Regions from separate parts of the Homo sapiens genome. Here all the other regions are linked to region 5. The links come from fine-mapping of genetic effects on gene expression. A gene starts in region 5. Each other region holds a variant in brackets. All regions are shown on one strand. Distances are between the middles of the regions.

Region 1 (5,133 bases), 580 kb after region 5:
GCCCATGCTGGAGTGCAATGCCGTGATCTCGGTTCACTGCAACCTCCACCTCTCAGGTTCAAGTGATTCTCCTGCCTCAGCCTCCCGAGTAGCTGGGATTACAGGCACGCGCCACCACACCTGGCTAATTTTGCGTTTTTAGTAGAGATGGGGATTCTCCATGTTGGTCAGGCTGGTCTCGAACTCCCGACCTCAGGTGATCCACCTGCCTCGGCCTTCCAAAGTGCTGGGATCACAGGCATGGGCCACTGCGCCCTGCCGATGGATCTCTTTATCGGGAGGTATAAATGCATCAAAATTTGTGGAGCTGTAGTGAAATTTGTGCTTTGTTTTTACTTGGTGGCTTCCTTTCTTTTTTCAAAGACCTAATGAGAATGTTTAAATAACAGACATCTGGGTTCAGCCTTTGAAGCCTTAGCTTGTACTGTCTGATATTCTCAAGTTTTTGAGGAATATCGGGTCAGTGATGGACATTTAGCTGCAAAATATATTCCTTTAGTGATCCATCTATTTAATCTCACTGATAAAAAGATACTGATACTGATGAGTATCTTTCCTATTTTCATGGAGGCATTATTCAGGCATAACCCAGGATACTCCTAGCTGCTGTTGCAGAATTTTTCACTGAAATATAGAAATATGTGTGTAAACATCTGTCTCACAACTTTTGTGAAAGAGCATAATACCCATTTATGGTGAAGAGAAGGAATAAGCAGTTAAGAAAGGAAGCAGTTGAGTGAATAATTTTGTCATTTGACTTGCATAAAATCATTGGGATAATTTTTACTTATAAATATACCACACACAGGAAGGACCTTTTGTTCCATTTTAAAAATTGCAGGTGACACCTGTTTTTTTGTTTTTGTTTTTGTTTTTTTTAACCTCATGTTACTTCTCTTGCTTGATGTTCAACCCAGCTTAAAGTTAAAGCAGACTCAAGCCACCATTCATTCATTCTGTTGAGGACAGCATCCATCTGGTATCTTCTTACTTTGTTAATTCAGTTATTCTATCTACAATTGTTTCTCACATTGATGACTTAGGAATTTCAGGAATGGATGAGTTAGGAAAATGCCAATGACCATGGAAATAGAGAAAAAGGTATACCAAATTTTGGGTGCTTTTTGAGTTTTCTGTCTTATGGGTAAATGATATTTTTGTGCCTTTTTCTCCATTGCAAAAAGGAAATAGTTTTTCATAAGAATTGCTGGTTCAAACTGTATATAGATAAACACACACATAGGATAGATATTGATGGGTGGTAAAAGTTTTCTAATTGGTTCAGATGAGAAGATTTAAAAATTACTTAAAAGAGAATAAACAACATCTTGTCTATAACTATTCTAGGTGGTTTGTTTTTCTAAAAATAATGTAATATTTTAAAAATGTTTCTAGATGATTTCATTTATACATGGATTTATACATTTGTATCTTATAAATATCCCAGAAAGAGTCAATCAAAAAATTATATCTGCCAAAATAAGTGTAATCATGTTGTTCAGCCTAACAAGAAGGGGGTGCTTTGCATGCACAATTCCATGCAAATGAATTCACATTTCCATTTAGCTGTAATGGGCACATTCTCCCCACAGCTGTGCTTTTCGTTGTGACATGGAGATAGAAGCTCCACTTTCAAAATTATTGGATTTGGAAATGGAGTTAGAATATTGAATTTGGTGCCTAAAATAATAACTATCTCTTTTTAAAAACATTATTATATGCTCAAAACCCCTTCCCTGGACTAAGTCATTTAATTCTCATAACCCTATGAGATAGGTACTGTGATCATCTTCAGAACAGAGTTTTGGAGCATAGAGAGTGGGTAAGCATCTGGGGCAGGGTCATACAACTGGGAAGAAACTGACCTGGACTTGAACCCAGGCTTTCTGGCTTTGGAACTAGCTCTGTTAAGTGCTGTGTGTACAGCCTTCAGGGTATCAGGTCCTTATCTGACATTATCTCACCCTCTTCCCCCAGTGGATCTTGTAGGGTAGGTATCATTATCTTCATTTTATAGCTGAGAAAACTGAGATGCAGAATATGCTGCTCTGATCTTTGGTTTTTACTTACTTTTTTAAAAAAAATATTTATTTCTAGTTTGTATTTCAGTAGGTTTTTGGGGAACAGGGTATTTGGTTACATGAGTAAGTTCTTTAGTGGTGATTCATCAGATTTTGCTGCATCCATCACTTGAGCAGTATACACTGAACCCAATATGTAGCTTTTTATCCCTCGTCCTCTTCCCACCCTTTCCCCGCTGAGTCCCCAAAGTCCAGCGTTATCATTCCTATGTCTTTGCATTCTCGTAGCTTGGCTCCCACTTATGAGTGAAAACATATGATGTTTGGTTTTCCATTCCTGAGTTATATCACTTAGAATAATAGTATCCCATTCCATCCAGGTTGCTGTGAATGCCATTAGTTCATCCCTTTTTATGTCTGAGTAGTATTCCA[T/TTGTGTGTGTG]TGTGTGTGTGTGTGTGTGTGTGTGTGTGTACACAGTTTCTTTATCCACGTGTTGATTTATGAGCATTACCTCGTTCTCCTTCTTTTTATTTGAAGGGTGGAGTAGAGTTAGCCTGAGGTGCAGGTAGAGTCTCCTGACTGAAAGTTATAAATTGAATTCTACATATGACCCTAAATATATACTATAGGACTTTCACTATAATGCCCCCAATTTTGCAGGGCAATTTGCTACATCTGTCAAAATCCAGTGTGCATGTGCTTGATATAGCAAATCTGCTTAAAAACGTGCAGAAGAAATCTCTAGGGCTTTTACTGGCTTAATCTAGTTTATTTCAGAATGTCAGATCTTGCGCTTGGGGTGGTGTTTGTGACAATTCCAGACCTAAGCGAGAGTCCCTGCGAGGATGTAGTGAGCGTGTGTGCCAATGCCCTGGTGAATCCTTTATCCCCAGGCACTTCACTTGCTTTCCTCATTCCGGCAAAGTGTTTTCCTTTCTTTTCTTTTTCTTTTTTTGGAGACAAGTCTCACTCTGTCGCCCAGGCTGGAGTGCAGTGGTGTGATCTCGGCTCGCTGCAACCTCCGCCACCTGGGTTCAAGCAATTCTCGTGCCTCAGCCTCCTGAGTAGCTGGAACTACAGGTACCCGCCACCACGCCTGGCTACTTTTTTTGTATTTTTAGTAGAGACGGGGTTTCAGCATGTTGGCCAGGCTGGTTTCGAACTCCTGAGCTAAGGCAGTGTGCCCGCCTCGGCCTCCCAAAGCGCTAGGATTACAGGCGTGAGCCACCGCGCCCAGCCGTGTTGAAGTGTTTTCTATGGAAGCTCATCTTTGAAAGGAGAGCTCTGTGTAAATGTTAGGTATTCTCATCCACAAAGTTATGGGTCTTCCTTATTTCTCATCTACTTTATTGGCTTCAATTAGTCACAGCACAGTAACTTAAAATGATTAATAACATGGAGGTCAGCTTAGGATTTCAGAAGATGCTTTTCTTGGGAAGTAAACATAACGGATTGCTTATATATTACTCTTTTAGGTTATTTGTCAAAGAACACATTTGCCTTGGAAGGATGTTTGTTACAGCATCTTTTCTTCTTTCTTTGACATGTTGCCTCTCCTGAGTCATTTCTTCACAAAAAGTCTCTTGTGGTTGCAACTGTTAGATGGAGCTTTGATAAAAATTGGTCTCAGAATCATCTGGAATATTTATATTGTCAAGTTTTTTCATATAAATTATTTTATGGCCTTAAGAGTGTTTTTTTCTCAAAGATACTACCCTGGCAGGGGGTCAGTTTACAGTTCAAAACTTTGTTTGCTGTTGAGCTTAATTGATTTAAAAATGTGCTTCTAGCCAGGTACAGTGGCATGTACCTGTAGTCCTAGCTGCTCAGGAGGCTGAGGTGGGAGGATCGCTTGAGCCCAGGAGTTCAAGACTAGCCTAGTGAGATCCTTTTTCTTAAAAACATAAGGCTTGCCACGGTGGCTCATGCCTGTAATCCCAACACTTTGGGAGGCCGAGGCAGGTGGATCAGGAGGTCAGGAGATCGAGACCATCCTGGCCAACATGGTGAAACACTGTCTCTACTAAAAATACAAAAATTAGCTGGGCATGGTGGCGTGTGCCTGTAGTCCCAACTACTCAGGAAGCTGAGGCAGGAGAATTGCTTTAACCCAGGAGGTGGAGTTTGCAGTGAGCTGAGATCGTGCCACTGCACTCCAGCCTGGGCTGGAGTGAGACTCCATCTCAAAAAGAAAAAAACATGAACATTTTGGTTCTGATGTGAGCTGCCAATTTTTTCTCATCCTGGAAGTTTCCTAAGGCAAACATATTGGGAATCCAGCTCTCAGAAATTAGACAATTGAATTATATTTCATCTAGATTGCCCACCCAAGCTAGTGAAAGCTTGGGTTTTGATTTTGGTTGTGTTTAATAATTACAATCCTTTTGGCTGTGTTTTCTATCTGAAATTCAGCTAGATATAGAAATAAAGTCCAAATATACCTAAGATTCAGCATCATAAATGTCAGGTTCATGGAAGGATTATTTATACTTGTATTGAGAATTATGCTGTCCAGTTTGGTAGTTTCCAGGTGTCTCATTGTGGCAGAGGCAGGCTGCCTTCCTTTGGTCGTTACTGTGCCTCAATTACCTCAATATTCTCTTGAGAGAAAAGGGCTTAGGTTATTCCATTAGCCTCTGGTCAGCCCTTCCTGACTCTACTGTTACTTTCTCCTGCTCCAGCCTCCTTTGTAAATGTGGAAGTCAATTTCCTATTCAGTGGGATCATGTCATTCCTACTCCCCCCTTCCCCAGGCTGGAGTGCAGTGGTGCGATCTCAGCTCACTGCAACCTCTGCCTCCTGGATTCAAGCGATTCTCCTGCCTCAGCCTCCTGAGTAGCTGGGATTACAGGCACACGCCACCACACCTGGCTAATTTTTGTATTCCTAGTAGAGATGGGATTTCACCATGTTGGCCAGGCTGGGCTCGAACTCTTGACCTTGTGATCCAGCCACCTCAGCCTCCCAAAGTGCTGGGATTATAGGCATGAACCACCACGCCCAGCCCGTTCCTGCTATTTAAGTCCTTAATGGCCTGGCCTTGTTGGTAGTCTGAAGTGTCACATCAGTGGTTCTTAAACCAACCTTTTTATCAGGATCACTTTGGGCATATGTTAAAATA
Region 2 (5,133 bases), 110 kb before region 5:
TGTAATCCCAGCTACTCAGGAGGCTGAGGCAGGAGAATTGCTTTGAACTCGGGAGGCGGAGGTTGCAGTGAGCTGAGATCGCGCCACTGCACTCCAGCCTGGGCGACAGAGTGAGACTCTGTCTCACACACACACATACACACACACACACACACACACACACACACAAAGAGGTCAAGGGAGGTAGAGCTCAAGAAAGAGAAAGTGCTTAGTGGGGCCCAATATTACCAAGGGTAGGGGGTTGGCTCATAAGCCTCAGAAAGTGGTGGGCACTGGGATTCAGGCAGTGTCTATTTCTAAAGCAAGAGATCCCAAACTCCCAAAGAAAAGCTGAAAACAGTGATGAAAACAGCAGGTGTGCACAGAAGGAAACTAAAAAACATGCAAGAAAATAATTATTCATTCAATAAGTATTTGTTGAGCTTCTACTATGGTCCAAGCATTCTATATTGGAAGTATAGCAGTAAACAGGATATAATGGTCTGTGGGCCCACAGGATTTAAGAGCAGATAGGATCAAGATCAAAGAAAAAGAGTCTGACTTCAAAAAGCTATGAGACATCTCTTCAAAGGAAGGAGAAATGATCTGGGGCTAAAGATTATATGGGCAGAGTCCTAGAAGTATCAAGAAGACAGAAAATTTTAGGGTTGTCATGAGTTGGGTTGCCCTGAAGGCAAAACCTGAGACAAGGACTTAGGTGCAGGAGTTTATGTGAGAGATGACTCCAGGAAGCAGAGATGAGGAAATAGGGTGTAAAAAGGGAAGAGCAAAAGCCAACTAAGGGTACATTATCAAGTTTACCACTTGCCAAACCAGCAAGAGGCTGGTTTGGCCAGAACCTCCAGAGAAGTACACAGCTTGCCTCCAGAACTGTTCACCTGAATCGCAAAGGCCGGAGCACTTATTCACATGTTCAAATGCCCAGTGGCTGAGAGTAGCCTCTGAGGGCATTTATTCCCACAGACGTCCAGGCTCCTCTTCAGCCCAGGCCATGCAGACTCCCAGCATAAGAGATGCCCTTGGGGAAGAAAGCAGAAAAGCAGAAAAGTAGGGGCTAGAGGTGGGAAGCTGACTTGGACAAAACTGGTCACCACAGTTGTTGCTGAAATCAGAGATAATTTCACAGAGGGACTGTGAAAATGGCCACAGGGGCATCTGCCACAAAGGTAGTGTTGGTGAGAACTAGGTGGAAATGGCTAATCATTCAGCCCAGGCTAGTTAAGGAGAAAAAAAAAGAATGCTAAGAGAAAGTGGCTTGGGAAGTTTTCTAAGGTCTAAGCTTTCTTTCAATGATTTTTGGCCTCTGCATAAAAATATGAACTTAGGGACTTACTAATAGCTCAAAGTTAAGATCATAGAGAAGGCGTTGTACTCCTCTAGGTCAAGGGCATATTAACCACTGATATTTATTGAGCACTTACTATGTGCCAGGCACTTTATAGTCATCATCAAATAAATCATCCCTGCAACTGTATATACTCATTAGTATTGTTGTTCCCATTTTATAAAGGAAGGAACTGAGGCTTAGAGAGTTTTTAAAGCTTTTAAGATCTATGAGGTAACAACCTATTTCATTTTAAGTGTATGTCAATAACCCACACTTGCATCCTTGTGTTCGAACACACACACACACACATACACACACACACACATACACACAGTAAAATCAGATATGAGGAATTTCTGGTTTTACTAGAGAATTTAGTTTATTTATCTTCCCTGTCTATTTCTTCATTACATGGATAATGAAGCACTTCTAGACTCTTTAATGAATACATTTATTTAAATTTTAAAAAATTTATACCAATTGATCAATGTGTTTTCATCAAATACGTGGACTAGAAATACAGAAAATAAAGATGTTTAGATATAGAAAACTGAGCAAAAACCAGCTACAAAATACCACCAAAAGCACAGAGCTAGTTGAAGTCAAAAAAAGCATCATAAAGGGAAAAACTAAAAGCATCTAAATACAGAACAAAAGGCAAATCTGATTGAAAACTTGTCTGCATCTTTAATTTGGAGGCTCATGATCATGCTGGAGGTAGGAGGCAAAATTTAATTTAAGGAGAATTTTGGCCAACCATCGCTATTTTCTTTAACACAAGAACAAGGAGGGAGAGGGAATGAGGTAGACAACATCCACGGAGGACCAGGTGAAGGAAAAGCAGAGAGTGATCATATCCCATATCCCCAGACACTTGGATTAGCCTCAGGGAGGCTGGTTAGGCAATGCCACCACCACCACCGTCACCACGCCCCCACCCCCCTCACCCGACCCACCCGCCACTCCCAGAATAAAGCTGGTTTGTAATTAGTTTAGGCTGTAGAGGCTTGTATCATTAAAATAATGACCACTGGGCATTTGCCACAACCAAGATAATGTTTCATAATCAAATTAACTTGGCTCAAAAACTTGATTTGGAACCTGTTTATGGTTAGTCATCAAACAGCTTTCGGGGTGCTTGAAGCATAAGATATGCAAAAAACTAGGTAAGTAGTGCATGAACACAGAATCAGAGGAAAATGTGGCTATGTTTTAGTCACAGAGTACTTACAATGGGGGTTGGAGGTAGGAGGACAGTGACTATACAAGAAAAGGATTTGAAATTGACCCTCAAAGAACTGAATATCTTTTTAAATAAAATGACAATATTAAAACCACATGCTTAAAATACGTA[C/T]GGCTAAGTGCTTCAGCAGAGACTGGGATACCAGATCCTGAGTTCCTCAAAGGCAGGAGTGTCCAAGTCATTCACTTTTGCTTCACCGGAGCCTAACACATTGCCTGGAGCAGTGTTGGTACTCAGGAAAACCTTCTGTCGAATGAAGGACTATCATGCTGTTATAATAATTAGGAGAGGACAACATAGAAACATGGAAAACCTTTTTAATCTACTGGAAAGTGAAAATGATATGTCAATGGATTGCAACCATGTGCAAAAACAGGTGTGTTTGAGGACAACTAGAAGATAAGGTGGCAAAAATGAAAACACTGGTGTCAGGTGTTAGGATTCTGCATGTATTGTTGTTGTTTCTAAAACTGCATTTAATGTTGTCAGAATATAATCTTTGTAATTTCAGAATCTAGAGATGCTTCCATGTTGGAGGGAGGGAAGGAACTGGATACTCAATGAACTGATAGCTTACAGGCAAAGGTTCAAACTCCATTGCTTAGCACTGCAGACTCTTTGTGGCACAGTCCCCAAGAACTCCAGTTTTATATCATATCCCTGCTCCTTCCTTCTTCCCCATCACACTGAATAGTTTGCCTTTTCTAAAACGTATCATAGGTTTCACTCTTTTTTTTTTTTTTTTTTTTTTTGGTACACACTCTTCTCACTATTTGTAATGCCCTTGTTTCCGTCCCTTCTTCATATGGCTAAATCCTACCCATTCTTCAAAACACAACTCAAATATTTCCCCTCTGAGAAGCTGACCTGATTCCCCACACCCTATCCCAGTCTCAATTTTTGGCCACGTCTCTAAGTTTCTATAGCAACTTATGCGCTTACCTCTTTCAGAGCCCTGTCTCACTATGCTGCAATCACTGGTGTACTTGCCTTTCTCCTCTACTAGCCTGGATGCTACCTACAGATAATGTAAAGATACCTGGGGCTACAAAGGCCAGTGGATGACCCACTGTCTTTTTTACCAAACTGTGACAGTGTGGTCACTTAGTCAAGACTCTTTTGGTTGCAAGTAACAGACATCCATTGAAACTGCTTTGAGCACAAAAGGGAAATTTATTTATAAGGACATAGAGATACTTCTCAGAGCCCAAGGTTAGAAAGTGCAGACACTGAGGTCTGGATCCTGGAGCTAGAAAGCCTACAGAATCAAGGCAGCTACTCTCTTAGTCAATCAGTCTTACTCTCTCCCCATACCCACCTCTCTCCCTGCAGCCTCACACAGTCTTTTAATCTGCATATCTCCAGAGGCCTGTTGTATTCCTCTCTCTTTCTTTCTCCCTCTCTCTTGCTCCGAAAGACAGTTATACAGTGGCTACAAGTATGAGCTCATACTACCTGTGTTCATGCCTGGCTCTGCCATTAACCAACTATATGACCTTGGATAAATTACTTAACCGCTCTGTGACTCAGTTTCCTCTTCTACAAAATGGGAATAAGAAGAGGTCCCACCTCATAGGAGTATTACAAGGATTATTGAATTAATCTAAGACATGGCTTCCCACTGCTCCCAAGTTTACACATCTACCTAGTCTATCTACAAATATGTCTTAGTCCAAGACCACACTTCTGAGAAAGACAACCTGGCTGGTCCAGCTTGAGTCAGCTGTGGATCTTTGATCTACTGAGCCACAGCCTGGGAGCCAAGTTAAAAACCTGATCACCAGGGCCCATCCTTGAAGATAAAGTGACAGTTCTTAGAGAAAGGGGCCATGGGCTGAGCAGACACCAGAAACAAAAACCTGCTACAGCCACTAACTAACCATGCAGCCATGCTTGTGGGCCTGCCTAGGATTACAGCTGGGCCTTTTCACCTCATGGCCCTGAGCAAGGCTCGTATTTAAAACACACAGCTGCCTGTCAGACTGCAATGACACCTAAGGGAGCTCCACACACTGGCACTTAATAAAGGCTTAATGGTGATGATGGTGGCGCTGACAAAAATGACGGTGGCACAACAGGCCATGCTATTGCTTCCCAGCAGTTCTCTGCTGGGCCCCGTGGCTTGAAGTTGAAATCAGCACATCCTTCTAACTCGGCTAATGTGGCTTGGCTCTGGGGCCAACCCTCATCAGATCCCATCCAACTGCTAGTTAGGTAGATTTATACCCCACTAAATCCATTGTCACACAAGGGCTTCCTCCTCACTGCCAGAGTGTAAAGAACATAGACACAGCATCCAATAACCAAAGGAGGAAAGGCCTCCAAAGAAAATTAACCATTTGACTTCAAAATGTTATGCTGCTGCTCTAGAATTTCCAACCAAATGAAATCAGCTGAAGGTCCTGCATCTTTAAATAATAAAAAAATAAAGAAGAACCACAGCTGTGGGCCCTTACTAGCCCATAAATAAAGCCCCGTATGCAACTCTATATCAAACTTTTTTTTTTTTTTTTTGAGACAGAGTCTCACTCTGTCACCAAGGCTGGAGTGCAGTGGTGCGATC
Region 3 (5,133 bases), 570 kb before region 5:
CTGGGCAAAGTAAAATGAAAACCTTCTGGAAAGGATTCACCATGCTGGATGTCATTGAGAACATTCATGATTTATGGGAGGACAACAAAATATTAACATGAAAAGGTGTTTGGGAGAAGTTGATTCCAACTCTCATGGATGACTTTGAGGGGTTCAAGACTTCAGTGGAGGAAGGAGCTGAAGATGTGGAAGAAATAGCGACAACTAGAATCAGAAGTAAAGCTTGAAGATGTGACTGAATTACTGTAATTTTACAATAAAACTTGAATGAGTGAGGAGTTGCTTCTTACGGGTAAGCAAAGAAAAGGATTTCTTGAGGTAAAATCTACTCCTGAAGAAGATGTTATGAACATCGTTGAAATGACAACAAAAGCTTTAGAATATTACATAAACTTAGTTGATAAAGAAGGGTTGGAGAGGATTCACTCATTTTGAAAGGAGTTTTATTGTGGGTAAAATGCTGGCAAACAGTGCTGTATGCAACAGAGAAGTCATTCGTGAAAGCAAGAAGCCACTGATGTTGAAAACTTTACTGTTTTCTTACTTTAACAAATTGCCACAGCCACTTCTGCCCTCAACAACCACCAGTCTGATCAGTCGGCAGCCATAAATATCAAGGCAAGACCCTCCACCAGCAGAAAGATTATGACTTACTGAAGGCTCAAATGATCACCAGTATTTTTAGCAAAAAAAATTTTTAAATTAAGATAACATATTTTTTTATAATGCTATTGCATACTAGACTACTATAGACTGTAAACACAACTTTTATATTCACTGGGAAACAAAAAAGTTTGTGTGCCTTGTTTTATTGCAATATTCACTTTATTGTGATGGTCTGGAAGTGAACATGCAGTATCTCTGAGATATAGATATGCCTGCATTTTAAGTCTCAGTGTGACATTATTGTTCTACTATGGTTATTTTACTGTGTTTTACTTACACTTCAAGAAATTCACTAGAGGGTTGGTTTGACATATAACACATTTTTTCCCATTTAAGTAATGGCAAACTGTCTCAAGGAAATCATTTTTGGGTAATACATCTGATCATCAGGAATCAATTAGTAACATCAAACAAGGGGTGTCTATATTTTTTTCTCAGCATGTTCCTTATCTTTTCTTTGTTTGCTTGTTTGTTTGTTTTCTATTTTACATGTCTCATTTAATCCTGGAAAAATGCTATAAAGTAGCTAGCTGATTCTATCTTACAGATGAGGGCACTGAGATTCAGAGAGGTCAGTAGCTGGCTTTATTATCTTCTTCACTGTGGCTGCAATAAAAAATAACCACAAACTTTGTGGCTCTCACAGCTCTGGAAGCCAGAAGCCCAAAATTAAGATGTTTAAGAGCAAAGATCCCTCCAGAGGCTCTAGGAGGGATTCCATTCCTTGCCACTTTCAGCTTCTGGTGGTTGGTGGGACTCTTGTAATAGCATTTAGGTCTCCCAAAATAATCCAGGATGATTTCCTCATCTCAAGATCCTCAATTTAATCATATCTGCAAGGACCATTTTTTTTGCAAACAAGGTCACATTCACAAGCTCTAGAAATTTGATGTGGATACGTTTGCAGAGCCAATATTCAACTTGGCACACTCACCGAAGGCCACATAGCAGAATACGGTGTCAAGTCCAGATATAGGAGTTCCAGACTCCAGAGTTCATGTTCTTTCCACTCCATGTGCGGTTTTCCATCACATTGTGTGACCTGTCGTCTCCATCCCTCCTCACACCTCAGATTCCCTTAGTCTTCCCAACCTCAGAGTGAGGTTAATACTCTGTTCTCTCCGTGCCAGGGTCTCTTCCAAGGAGAGTATTCAAGAGCTGTGCCACCCCTTTACAAATTCCATTGCGCATCCGTGACTTCCTTTCCAATACCCAGACAGTTTCCTGAGTCTAGTTCACAGACTAGATCACCAAAGCAACCTTCCTGGGAGTAAATATTACATCTTTCCCATTCATATTAGTTTCTCAAAAGTGCTCAAGAGCCTGAAGAATGACAGAAGAGAAATGCTAAAGATTGAAGGAGTTCAGAACACAATACTCCAAAATATGTTGCTCTAGTATATTGACTATTTTGAGCTTAAAGACACTTGGAAAAACAGCAGATACAAAAAATATACTCTGAGCTTTCTTCTTTTCCTTAGAAACAGGAGATAACTTGTCCTCCCTA[C/T]GCCAGAGGGAAAGTAGCGTTCTTATCATCAAAGACGAGAAGTTGATGCTGAGAGAAATCTGAACAAACACACCTTATTAAAGTAACCCTTATCTTCCTAGTTACTTCTCTACCCAATTAACCTCCCTAGCCCAAGCCCGTTGGCTTTGTCACATACTCACAATTTTCTATTCCTTTCCCAATTCAGTACATAGGTGTTCAACTTTCAACTCTGTCTTTGGGTTTCATTTCCTTAAGAGGGCTCTTGTGCTCACATAAAAATTGAATGAATTAAATTTGTATGCTTTTCTCCCGCTGATCTGCCTTATGTCAATTCAATCCTCAGGCCCAGCTAAAAAACCCTAAGAGAGAAAATTTGGCCTCCCCTACAATGTCATCCTCTTTCTTTTTTCTGGACCTTCTATCTGCTGGTACTTAAGATACTAAAATGGACGGGAGAAAGAAAGCAAACCATGTTATGTCTTCTGCATTGGCCTGGTACACTCCGTTTGAAGGTTACTCGAAGCCAGCTTGCTTTTTGTCAAGAGATTGCTTGATCTGGAGCCATATAGAAAATGGTGACATCTCCACCCCGTGACATATGGGCCAGTAAGGGCTTGCAAAGTTCCATTCTGCACACTTCTCTTCATTCTAAGAACGAGTATTCATTCCATTTAAACACATATTACCAGGAATTCAATCCAACCTCTCTTTTTACAGTCTACCTAGAATTACTATTATACTATTTACATACAATATGGAAACCTCACACATGTATGAATCTATTTACAAACTCCCTCTAAATTCAAGTTGTCATTGAAATTACATCTACCTGTATTATAAATCCCATAAAAATGATGCTATAGTTTTTACTTAAACAAACATACATATTCTTAAAACATTAGGAGGAAAAAATTGATTTTTATATTTATCTTACTATTTATGATTTCTTTATTTTTACATAAGGATCTGAGTTTTCATCTATTTTTTCTTGTCATCCCAAAGAACAAAGCATTTTTTACAGTGTAAGTTGGTCTGCTGGCAATAAATATTCTGTTTTTGTTTTTCTGAATGCAACTTTATTTTGACTCCGTTCCTGAAGTATGAGTATCTTTGGATATGGACTTCGGGATTGGATAGTCATATCTCCTTACAGCACATTGAAGATATTGTTTCATTGTCTTCTTGCTTTCATAGTTTTTGAAGGTAGGTTGGCAGTATTTAGCAGTGCAGTTTCATGTATATAGTGTGTTGTTTTTCTCCGGCTATTTTCAAGATAGTGTCTTGGGTTTTCAGCAGTTTGATTACAATGTGCCTCAGCATCTTGAACGTGTACATTTATCTCTCACCAATTTTGGGAAGTGTGTGGGGCCACTGTTTCTTCAAATATTAGGTTGGCACAAAAGTAATTGTGGGTTTTGTAATGAAAAGTAATTGCAAAACCACGATTACTTTTGCACCAACCTAATATTTTTATGACCCATTCTCTATCACCTTTCCTTCTGGGGAACCAATTACTCATATGTTAAAAGAATTATCCCATAGGAACCTGAGGCTCTGGTTGCTTTTTTTTTAATCCTTTTTAAAAATACAATCTCTGTTCTTCATAGAGAAAATCTATATTGATATTATCAAATTCACTGACTGCTTTGGTCTGCCTGTGTATGTATATTCCAAAGGTCAGCCAGAGATTTGAGCAGAATTTACACCAAAAATTTGTAATGCTCCTTTTCTGGCCCTCTTTTTAATGACATTCCTCCCTTACTTTCCAGTAGCTGGGGTTGCTCCAAACTCTGTCCCCTGGTTCATAAGGCCAGAAAGACTGAGCTTCCTACAGGAGTTTCAGCCACTCTGTGTGGCCCTACCTGTGGCTTGACCTCAGGATAATAGTCATAAGAAATTTAACCTATACTACTTCCAGGTGTCTTCAACCCCCTTCGAGAATCTTGCTGCCTTTGTTCATTCTTCAGATCCCTCAGAGAGTTTTGTTGTTGCTGCTGTTTGTGTTTTGTGAGGGTTTACAGACTACATGGGAAGCAGAAATTGTTCTTTGGGATTTAACTTTTACAAAAATCACAAGCACTCATCTCATTTGTGGCAGTGAAAGTAATATTTACAATGTTAACGTTAAATAACATACCTTGCTACAGGTTTCCAGTAAATATCTTGTATTATGCTGCGTAAGCTCCTCCTATTTCTAGCTCATTAAATAAATATTATTTGCTTGTTGGTCTTATTTAACAGAAAAAAAAGGAGTCTCTATTTATTAATTCATTAGTTTTATTTTCCACAGATTGATTTTGTTACTCTCCTTTAATAATGAAAGTTCTCAGGGCTATTAATTTTCTGCTAAATACAGCTTTAGCCATTTAAAATATTGATACATAGAGTTCTTACTCTCCTAACAGTTTATTATATAGTTTCCTTTCCTGTTTGAATCTGGAGTTTTTAGAAAAAAATTTGGTTTTTGTTATCATTATTTCTCTTTTCCAAGCTACTGATTTTTGCATTTAAACTTTTGCTATTAATGTCTAGCTCTATTTCAGTGTAGGCAGAACATGGAGGCTGTTAACACTTTATATTTCATAATTTAATATGGTTTCTTTGAGATATAATATATGATCAATTTTTTTCTAAATGCTTCATGGCTCCTTAAAAAAGTGTATTGCTTATTTCTAGAGAACAAAATTTAATAAATATTTATTAAATCATCTTTGTTAGATTATTAAAATATTCTATCAATTCTGTGTTTATTTGACCCATGAAAGATCAATAAAAGTGTATTAAAGTGTCATACAACAATTCTACTTCCATCAATTTTTCCTTATATTTCTAACAGCCTTTGTTTCATGTATTTTGAGGCTGTTACCAAGTCAATAAAAATTCAGAACTGCCTTATCTTCATTGTGAAGTCTATCTTAAAGAAAATATAACCTTCTTGATTGCATTTAATATTTTTATAGCCTTTGATTCTATTTCAT
Region 4 (5,133 bases), 870 kb before region 5:
TCAAAAAAAAAAAGAAAAGAAAAGAAAAGAAAAGATCATTAGACATAAAACAACAAAAAAAAGCACATATAAAGCTGTTCTATTGCTCAGATAATATTTCAAAGAACAGGAAAGAGAACATATTTAAAAGTATATATCTGCATTGACTGCCAATCTCTCTTTCGATAGTAGAGATGACTATGTTTGATATTAAGCTTCTGTAAATCAGGCTTTCCTACTTTAACTTTCTAGTATCAACTGGTATATACAATCATTACTCTTTCTTTCCTTTTTTGTTTTTTTTCTCCTATCCTCTACATGGATAGACTAGAGGCTTAATAGTGTGATGATAATGGCTCTGTAACTCTGTAACTCTGGGTATGGCGTGTTCAGAACACCCACAGTAAACAATCCCAAATCCAAACATGTGTCTCAGAAAATGTGTCTCAAAGGCCTAGTGCTGTGCTGTCCAATATGGTAGGTGGTAACTACAAGTAGGTATTTACATTAAAATTAAATAAATTAAAAATTCCATTCCTTAGCCACATTTCAAGTGTTCAGTAGCCACATATGGCTTAATAGCTACTATACTAGCACAAATATGGTTCCATTGGACAGTGGCTAGCCTAGAGTAACATTTTCTAACTTACCACCTTGACCAGGGTTTAAATCAAGACCAGCCAATGGATTGTGCCTCACATGTACACCTACTTAATTTTAATTGGCATCCTGGAGTAGAAAAAAAGTACAGTGTTTGGAATAGACATCTCTTGCGGACATAGAATTGCGGAGTGGTGCCCACATACACCAAACATGGCTCATAAGAACTTGCATTAGCAGCAGTATAAAACTACAAAATACTAAAAATGCAACAAGAGTGCCACATCTCATAAATTACACGTGTCTTTCCACGTGCCATTTCAAAATAAGCCATGAGCGAAGTGTTTTTCTTCAGGCATACAGAGTTAAATAAAGTCCTGAATACGATCCGTAATCACAATCTGGGTCTAATCTGAGACAATTCATCTTCTTATTCATTAAACCAGAAAACTTGTATGAATTGGTAATACAAGTAACACCGATAATTTTTTTAAATGTCCATTTTACCTACATGTGAACCTGATACTCTGAAAATCACTGTTGATTCTTGTCAAGTAAACAACTATGCCACTGATAAAGCTCCATTCTTGAGTCCATATTATTCCCTGATAGAACCCAATAATCTAATCAGAGGTTTTTTTACCCCCACTTAGGAATTGTTTTTTGGATACTGTGACTCCAATAGGGCTTTCATTAACTAAAAAGAACTGTATACAACATATCAAATGCAGCATCTGGTCTAGTCTGAATTTCTAAATGACAAGCACAGCATGCATTTGGAATTACATAGAGAACGAGAAATCAGACCTCTATCATTAGCAATCTTTTTCCCCAAACACTGCTTCCACTTCATGCTTCAACACCTTTACCTTCCACAGACCTCTTGGTAATGTCACGACTAGCTTGTCAAATCAAATTCAGCAGCACACAAGCATCTGTATTAATACTTTTGCATTTTCATTCACTAGGAAAAAACAAACTCTACTTAGTAGGCAGATTAGCCATTATCTACTGTAACTCTAAACCATCTGAGTTACATTACTAAAATGAATTGGCATTGAAAACAGAGCGACAGAAATGTTTACCGATAGAAAAATATGTAGGGAATGGGAGTTTCTTTTGCGCTTACTTGCCAGTGACTTCCTAAAGCTGTAATGAGGTCAAAATAAGCTGGTTTATTTCATCTGTGACCACTGGGTGAGATCTCATTTTATAATGGCCTTAATAATTTGCCACTTATGATTACGATAATAACAATATTTTTTAAAATCACTGGAAACTTTAATTAGGTATTTCCAAATCGCTAGGGGTTATTAACCAAGGGTCAATTTTGCTCCCCCAACCCCCACCCAGAAATATTTGGCAATGTCTACTGATATTTTTGGTTCTCATAATTGGAGGTGAGAGTGCTACTGGCATCTAGTGGGTACAGAACAGGGATTCTGCTAAATATACTTCAATGCACTGGAAAACTTCCTGCAACAAAGAATTATCCCACCCAAAATGTCAACAACGCCAAGGTGAAAAAACCATGCCCTAAAGCTACATATGATCACTATCATTTAAATGATTATTCCAGGACTTCTATGGACATGAGCTACTGAAAAAAAAAAATCATTTTGTCTTTCACAGATGTCAAGCTTAACCAAGTCCATGTGACCATTTAGAGAGTTAGGAGGTACATCTACTATAAAAATAGCATTTTTCAACAGAGGCTATTTTGTTATTTGTTTCATCCTTATTCATCCTGTCTCTCTAAACAACAGCAAAATTTTTAACCCATCATCAACCTTTAAATACTGTTGGGTCAAGTTCTCACTGTCAAAAAAGACATATTAATTGCAAAAAAGCAAAAACATGACCATCTTTACAGTGCTAAATCACTTCTGGAAAATGTTTATGTCAAAAATCAGCTTAAATTTTTGGAGATAGGACAGGCGCAGGTGGCCCATGCCTGTAATCCCAGCACTTTGGGAGGCCGAGGTGGGTGGATCACGAGGTCAGGAGATCAAGACCATCTTGGCCATCATGGTGAAACCCCGTCGCTACTAAAATACAAAAAATTAGACGAGTGTGGTGCTGCGTGCCTATAATCCCAGCTACTTGGGAGGCTGAGGCAGGGGAATCACTTGAACCCGGGAGGCAAAGGTTGTGGTGAGCTGAGATCACACCACTGCACTCCAGCCTGGTGACAGACCAAGACTCCGTCTTAAAAAAAAAAAAAAAAATTGGAGATAATTTTTAATAGAGACTATTACTAATC[T/C]AATAATAACTTCCATAATATCTTAAGTTTCACAACAGAGATGATGATATAAAGTAGAATTAAGTGGCAGCCTAATTATTAATGATGTTCTTTGCCTTTGAGATAATCCAGTTATACACTTTAAAGGTTTGGTATCTTTAGCCCCATGCGAGGAGAGAGTCGTATGTTTTTCTTTCTCTCACACACACTCCAGGAAAGGAAAAGCAAGCACAGTAGTTAACCCCTGATAGTTTATTAGTCATTCTTGCTTTGTCGCTTTATTACCACGAAACTGGTCAGTCATGGACATAAACAAAACGTGCAAGGATAAGGCAGGCTTTCACTCACATAAAAACTGCCAAGGGCCAACCCCATTGTGAATCACTACAGAAAATCATTACAAAATCTTAAAACAACAACAACAACAACAAAAACCCAGCACTTTGAATCATAGTATCTCTTCAACAGATACACTACAAAACTTTATCAGAAACACTATGTGAGAGATGAACAGAGCTAGGAGGTATTTTCACATTAGTAAAAAAAAAAAAAAAAAAATCTCAGAAATCATTTATATAAAAACCTATTGTGAGAAGTCTAAATTTACGTTCAATGCCTTCCCTTTCTTTCGCTCTATACAGTTTTAAAATATGTTCATTTTGTTCTAACTGCACAGTAATAGGCATGGCCTTCTAAGCAGAAAAAATATATTATGGCAAGGAAAAATGAAGAGATACGTTGCTAACACAACAGACTTTTGTTAAACAATTAAGAGGAAAAAAATGCATACAATATAGCATTTGCTATATAACCATAACCTCTCCCATTCCTGGTGTCCCACTCTGAATTCTACTTGATTCAACAACTTAAGATGCAATGGAAATAATAATGTCTATTCCAGCAGATTAAAAAATACAAGGCAGCAGTAAATGTTATGACCACCAGCTAATGGGCTATGGTGGAGAAGCATCCACTGTGGATTAAGCTCTCAAGTACTCAATAACTTTTAAAAATGCCTTAAATCACCCACAAAATGCAGTATACATGGCTTTGTGTATACAACTGTTAAGTGTACAAATATACATCAGGTGCAGGAAATCAAAAGCAGCCTTTGTGAAAACTTAGTTTTATAGTACTTATTACTACAAACTAGACATAAAGGTGCTGAATAAAATAATTAAGAAAAAGGAAATAGCAACTTTGAACAATCTTATAAATCATTTTATATAAGTTAGTTATCCTTAGAGTATGTATACTATAATTCTGAGTTAAATATTTATATAATACAATTTTTGTAACTGAAACAGGATCTCACTTTGTCATCCAGTCTAGAGTGCAGTTGCACGATCATGGCCTACTGCAGCCTTGATCTCCCAGGCTCAAAGGATCCTCCTGCCTCATCTACCTGAGTAGCTGGGAATAAAGGCATGCACCGCCATACCCAGTGAATTTTTTTTTCTGGTAGAGATGGTGTCTTACTACATTGCCTAGACTGGTCTTGAACTCCTGAACTCAATGGATCCTCCTGCCTCAGCCTCCCCAAATGCTGGAATGACATATGTGAGCCACTGTGCCTGGTCCATATAAGATTTTAGAGTATTACTCTAAGAGATTAACCCTACCCTGGGGAATCGATGTCAAAAGTTGGGAATATCTTTCCTAGGTGAAATAATAGAAATAACGAACTCTTTAGAGCTGACTATGTAGCAGGTGCTTCTGAGTGCCATACCCAGGGTAACTGATCCATGGGTTACATTAGAGGAAATTGAAGCATAAGGCAAGTAAGTAACTTGGCCAGAGCTGCAGAGCAACCATGTGGCAGAACCAAGATTTCAAGATTTGAGCCCCGGCAGTGTGGTTCCATAGACGCTACTCACTGGTCTCTTCTGCCTCTGGAAGACTCTCTCCTTCCCTGCCTTCTTGTCACCCCTCCTCCCACCCACTGACTACCACTGTACAGCGAGGGTCTTAAGCCAGAGATCCTATGAGCCGCAACCACCATCTGTGAGCTGCACATTTTTTGAGGAATTACCTTTCCGGCAGCACATTTGAGGGATTCAAGGACTTAGAACAACATGAAACAATTCAACAATAATGACAAGGCAATGACTATCGAAGTGCAGCTTCACCTCACAATATCTATAAAAACATCCATGGTTATTGCACCATCCACTTGTTCCTCTTCCTGTACTCTTGTCATTGTTTCAATAGAAACCGCTGACTACCCTGACTGCTCTCATATATACCCAGAGGACAAGGTTTGAGCATCTTCTGGTAAACAGCAATCTTTCTTCATGCTGGCATGACCTCAC
Region 5 (5,000 bases):
ATCTTTCAGAAGAGACCAGAGTTACCTGCCTTATTATCTGTGAATACATAATTGAAAGGGCCAATATGTCTTCCAAAATGAAAGTCACAACTTGATAGATTTCTGAGAGTTCATATTAGAGGGTCAGATTTTAACATGTGAATGCAAACATAGTGTCAGAATTTGTTCTCAAGTGTCTGAAAGAACAAAAGAGAAAAGAGTAATGGGAGCCAAAACCAGACTAACTTCCAAAATAGAAACAGAGCATGTTGAAGTTGCATAAACACACAAATAAAGATGGGGACACAAAAACATTTCCTAAAGCATTCTATCAAAGGCTGCAGGAAAAAGGCCAAGACAAGGATACCAAATAGAAAAGCATAAGCCTAAAAAGGTTATCCACACTACTGTGAGGACTCCAGAAACCTGCCTTCTTGCAGAAACGGGATACTTTTGACATGAGGGCATGAGATGAAGATTGCAGACTACTTCGTAACACACTCTCCTCATTTATAAAATAAGAGTTAGATTAGATTATTTATAAGGTCCTTCCAGTCTGAATGCATTAAGTCCTTATCATCTATGTGGTCCTTGCACCTTAAGAGAGATGACCATATAAAGAAGCTCAAAAAACATTTGTTGAATTCATGAAGTATTACAACCTTACCAATAATAAATAAGATAATTTATAACAATTGGTCCTGGTCTGTGGCCTTGAAAGAGCAAATTAGAGGAGAAACCATTATCTAAAGAGCTACACATCTGGTGTTCCTGCTAGCTGACTGCTGGTGGAATGAAAATAACCCTGGACTTGAAAATAAGATGCTTGGTTCTAGTCTAATCTCTGACACAAACCAACTGTGTGACCTTGGGCAAACTGCTTTACCACCTGGGCCAGTTTCCTAATCTCTAAAATAAAGGTATTCTAAAACTATATACATATATATATGGAATCTTTATTATAGGCCAAGAAGTGTTCCAAGATCTTTGCATTAGAATTAAATGATCTCAAAGGTTTTTGCAGCTCAAATGTTTAGTATCTAAGTACAGAGGCAGCATGGTATAATTAAAAGATTCCAAATTCTGTAGCCAGAAAGGTTGGACTCCTCCTCAGCTCTGTAAGGTAAGGTCTTTCTCTAAGCAGAGACTGTTAAGCAGAAGGGCTTACAGTCTCAGTCCTTTTATTCACCAGTGTTTTAACTTGAACAAGTTACTTAACTTTCCTAGCCTTAGTTTTCTAATCTGTAAAGTTGATATAAAAATGGTTCTCACTCTCATATAGCTTTTAAGAGGATTAAATTATAACACATATATTTTATTGAATATATATTATATTGCTAGCTGTGTAATCATGGGCTATCTTCTCAAGTTTTTTCTCATATACAAATGGGAAATGTAGTATTAAAAAGAGATCATGTGAACAGGTTCTAAATGGTCAAGTGTTAGTGGTTTTGGAAGCATGTACGTTAATACTTGGAACACCGTATACAACAATCCCATATCTAACACTTAGAACAGCATATGCAATCAATAACAACACACACACACACACACACACACACACACACACACACACACACACACACACACACAAACCCTAGACTTCTTTCTTTACTAAATATTTCTAGTCCAGGTTGCAGCAGGTGGACACAGGCCGGCAGCCATGAACGCAGGTCCACATGGGAGTTGTAGTTCCGAGTCAAGCGGCTGCTCTACAGAACGGCTAGAAGCGAGACTTCGTCTCCCAGGAGACATCTCGCCGTGCAAAATGGCACGCCACGAGGTGGAGTACCTGCCCGACGAGAAACAAGAGGCGGGACTGCAACTCCCAGAAGCCTCCGCGGCCAAGGCCTCAGGCCGCAGGCTGAAGCCAAGGAGGGAGAGTTCAGGTAGATCCGGCTTAACATCAGGTGCGAGTAGGGACCACCCTTGGTAGTCTGGGCCCGGCCCAGGTCAGAACCTTACTAAAACAACCACTGTGAGTATTTTCTATTGGTCCCAGCACATTTCTGAGAGACCAGAATAATAATAGCAGTAAATCTGCAAGTGGTAAACTTTCACAAGCATAACCTCAATTTAGATTTCGGCTTCAGGCAACATCCTTTGGCCACTTGACCTGGGAGCATTGAGCTCCTTGTTTCCCAGATAAGCGCTGTGAGTGGCTGTTCCAAGGTAACACAGCGAGGGCAGAATGTGAGCCTACAGAGAAATCTGCAGATGCATCTCAAGTTCCACTAACCTGCCTCCTTACCCCCCACCACCACCAACTTGGATATACCTTTAAAATTCCCCCCTTTGACGCTAAAAATAAAAACAACAACCATAAAATAAGTGTAAGAAAGTCCGACCAAGTACCGATGAGTTCTCCCACAACAATAAATTCGATGCCTCTTTGCCTGTTTTTGAAGTAGTAATGTAAAATTATCTCCCAAAATGCTGCCTTCTCTATACTCCGGTTTGCTCCTGTCCTGGGCACGTGTTCAGCAACCCCTTAGGGGAATCCAGAGCTGCGTGTTTAACACAGACCTGTTGGGACGGATTTTCGCTACTTGTCTATGAAACTGACGAACCATCCCAAAACGGCGGGTGCCGACTACACCCCCAGAGCCAAGAGCTGTGGCGTCCCCGGACCCGCTGGCGTGGCCCCGTGCCTCAGTTTCCCCAATGTATAAACACGGTGGAGGAGGAACGGGTTAGGGCTAGGGTCGGTGCTTGGGAATTGGGGGGCCCGAGTCCCCACCCTGAGACCCTCGTGGGGCGGAAGAGTACTCGGGACAGAAGCCCACCGCCCCGTGAGCGGCGCCGGCCCCACTGGGCTCCGGGGTGATGACCTGACGCGCGTGGAAACCCAGACCCGCGCCCCAGAAACAGTATTCCACTTGGGCTTGCCTCCCCGCCCCTACCTTCCAGGATGTTGACAGCTGGGAATGAAAGGCAGAGGGAGGGAGCGCGGGGCCGGAGCGCCGCCTGGGAGTGTGCCCACTGGGTGGCCGCCTGAGGGACCCGGGAACAGAGGGCAAAAAGTCCTGTGACCGGACAGAGCAGAGCGGGGACTGCAATTCCCAGAAGACCCCACGGTAGGGGCGGGACCCAAGATGGCCGCTTGTCTGGGGACAGGAGCGGAGGCCAATACGCGCAGAGCATGCGCCTACGCCGGGCCAATTGAAAGCCATAGTGACAGTAACCCTGATTCAGGGGCGGGAAACACTGACCACAGAAGACAAGTTGAGGTGAGAATCCCCTTACAAGGGGGTTTGGGGCATAAATCGCACAATCTTTGGCTTTTTCTAACTAGAAAAAGAAACATGATTCTTTTCACGTGTAACGAAAGGCTGTACCGCACTTTTGCTTTTTTCTTTCCTCCCAAAACGCGTTTAACTATCCCTTCACGACTTCCCACTGGCTGGATTTCTTTTCGTTTCATTTCCCCACTCTGGATCTTTCTGGATTCCTTAAGCCTTCTTTTCTTTATGTGTCTCTCAGAAACACAGACTTGCAGTCCCTGGCTTGATCCATCAAATAATGTGGTCATTTACGACTACGCTCAGCCCTCCCTGGCATCCTAACAAAATTGCACCACATGCGCCCCTTCTCTTTTCCTTTCTGTCTTTTCTGTGCTGTTTTTCTCCTTAGCATTTGTCGTTACGAAGCATTGTATAAAATTTACGTATTTATCTTTTTTACCATCTTACTTTCTCACTAGAATGCAAGATCCCTGCAGATGTGGATTTTTGTTTTGGTCACTGTAGTCTTTCTAGCACCTAGAAAAGTGCCCAGCACATAGTAAATACACCGTATTTTCAATAATTGAACGAAATCTAGAGTGACCTTTCTCCCCTAGTCTCCCTTTCTCTGGTGCAGATCAACCCGTTTCTGACCACCATGGTTCCTTGTGCTTGTTCCCCTGTTTAATCCAAAATCATTATTGATGTATTCTGTGCCAAATGCCATGTGGGTGCTGGAGAAATCATTGATTCAGACCCAATTCCTAACCTCAAAATGCTCTGTCTAGTGACGTATGAAAAGTAAAATTAATTTTACAATAAATGCAATTACAAATTGCAGAACACCTACGTAATTTTCACAAGGTCATGCAGCTCCTAAGCAAGGACTAGATTCCTGGCTGCAGACTCTTGCCATTACATCGGGAAAAACAAAGAGCAGTTTTCTCTCAGACAAACACTAAGATAGGTCCCCATTTTCCTTAGCACCATTTCCTTTCTCTGTCTCTCACTTTTTTATTTGGCCTGATTCATTACATGCAGGCAATTACATCAAGTCTTAGATCTCTCATTATTTCTAATATTTGAATCCCATGGAGAGTAGCAAGGTGTCCTACAAAGTGTCCTGGTGTGAAAATCTGATGTCCTTGGAAGCTTGACTCTCAGAGAATGTCACATTGGATTATAGTTCATCACACAGACACCATGGCCACATAAAATATTATCAAATTGTGAATAACAAAGTGAAATTGAAAAAAAAAATATAGTTAAAACAGCAGGAATGTGAGCAATATATGTACAGACTGATTTTGTGCATAGAGATTAAAACACCTGTTCAGGCTTCCTAGCCTAATCTTCTGTCAATTTGGGGTCATTTCCTGTAATACAATTCTTTGTTGCTTTTATGAGCACAGACTTAGCTCAGCAGTCCCAGCTATTCTCAAGCTGATCGACATGAGAGATTTCAACACATGTGTCAGCAGCCAGACTAAACGTGGAAGAAAATCAGAAGCATTTGAAACTGTAAAGCTCAATAACTTTCCTCCTCCTGAGAAAGCATCAGCCTATAATCATTACATCTTCTACTTAGCAGTCAAAAGGCAAATGTCATGAACATACTCAGGGTCTAAACAGTGGTGTCTAATGATTATTGCACTGTTGTCAGATAGCCTAATATGAGCACATAGGTATTACTTCAGCTGTGGATAATGCTGACTGCTGGGCTCAAGGTCACCCACGACCTTGAGCAACAGATACATTCACAAAGAGCATGAAGACATAGAACTTGCATTGGATTCA

Direction of the effects. Alleles are on the strand shown, and positions count from the first base shown. SD is a standard deviation of normalised expression in the study named. Not every link is listed here.
For the expression in monocytes after LPS of the gene that starts at base 3,034 in region 5, allele TTGTGTGTGTG in region 1 goes with a higher level than allele T (large effect, 1.1 SD a copy in Fairfax 2014).

The links. PIP is the estimated chance that this variant, and not a neighbour inherited with it, causes the effect.
Region 1: its variant is fine-mapped to the expression of FHIT in monocytes after LPS (Fairfax 2014, PIP 0.95).
Region 2: its variant is fine-mapped to the expression of FHIT in skeletal muscle (GTEx, PIP 0.93).
Region 3: its variant is fine-mapped to the expression of FHIT in whole blood (TOPMed, PIP above 0.99).
Region 4: its variant is fine-mapped to the expression of FHIT in whole blood (TOPMed, PIP above 0.99).

The regions. Positions count from the first base shown.
Region 1 is chr3:61,830,614-61,835,746 of GRCh38, forward strand. All of the region lies in intron 2 of PTPRG (protein tyrosine phosphatase receptor type G), which reads left to right. Among named protein-coding and RNA genes, the nearest start is that of PTPRG, 270 kb to the left of the region's middle. RefSeq lists an enhancer at 1-12. The variant T/TTGTGTGTGTG (reference allele first, on the strand shown) is at 2,454.
Region 2 is chr3:61,133,964-61,139,096 of GRCh38, forward strand. The region is part of intron 2 of FHIT (fragile histidine triad diadenosine triphosphatase); the gene reads right to left. Among named protein-coding and RNA genes, the nearest start is that of FHIT, 110 kb to the right of the region's middle. The variant C/T (reference allele first, on the strand shown) is at 2,682.
Region 3 is chr3:60,682,817-60,687,949 of GRCh38, forward strand. The region is part of intron 4 of FHIT (fragile histidine triad diadenosine triphosphatase); the gene reads right to left. Among named protein-coding and RNA genes, the nearest start is that of MIR548BB, 68 kb to the left of the region's middle. The variant C/T (reference allele first, on the strand shown) is at 2,174.
Region 4 is chr3:60,381,477-60,386,609 of GRCh38, forward strand. The region is part of intron 5 of FHIT (fragile histidine triad diadenosine triphosphatase); the gene reads right to left. Among named protein-coding and RNA genes, the nearest start is that of MIR548BB, 230 kb to the right of the region's middle. The variant T/C (reference allele first, on the strand shown) is at 2,843.
Region 5 is chr3:61,248,419-61,253,418 of GRCh38, forward strand. It overlaps FHIT (fragile histidine triad diadenosine triphosphatase), which reads right to left and starts at 3,034. Exons shown (of 10, transcript NM_002012.4): 1 at 2,883-3,034. It overlaps LOC124909387 (a long non-coding RNA gene), which reads left to right and starts at 3,174. Exons shown (of 2, transcript XR_007095939.1): 1 at 3,174-3,209. RefSeq lists enhancers at 1,623-1,902, 2,183-2,312, 2,453-2,582, 2,713-2,772, 2,837-3,131.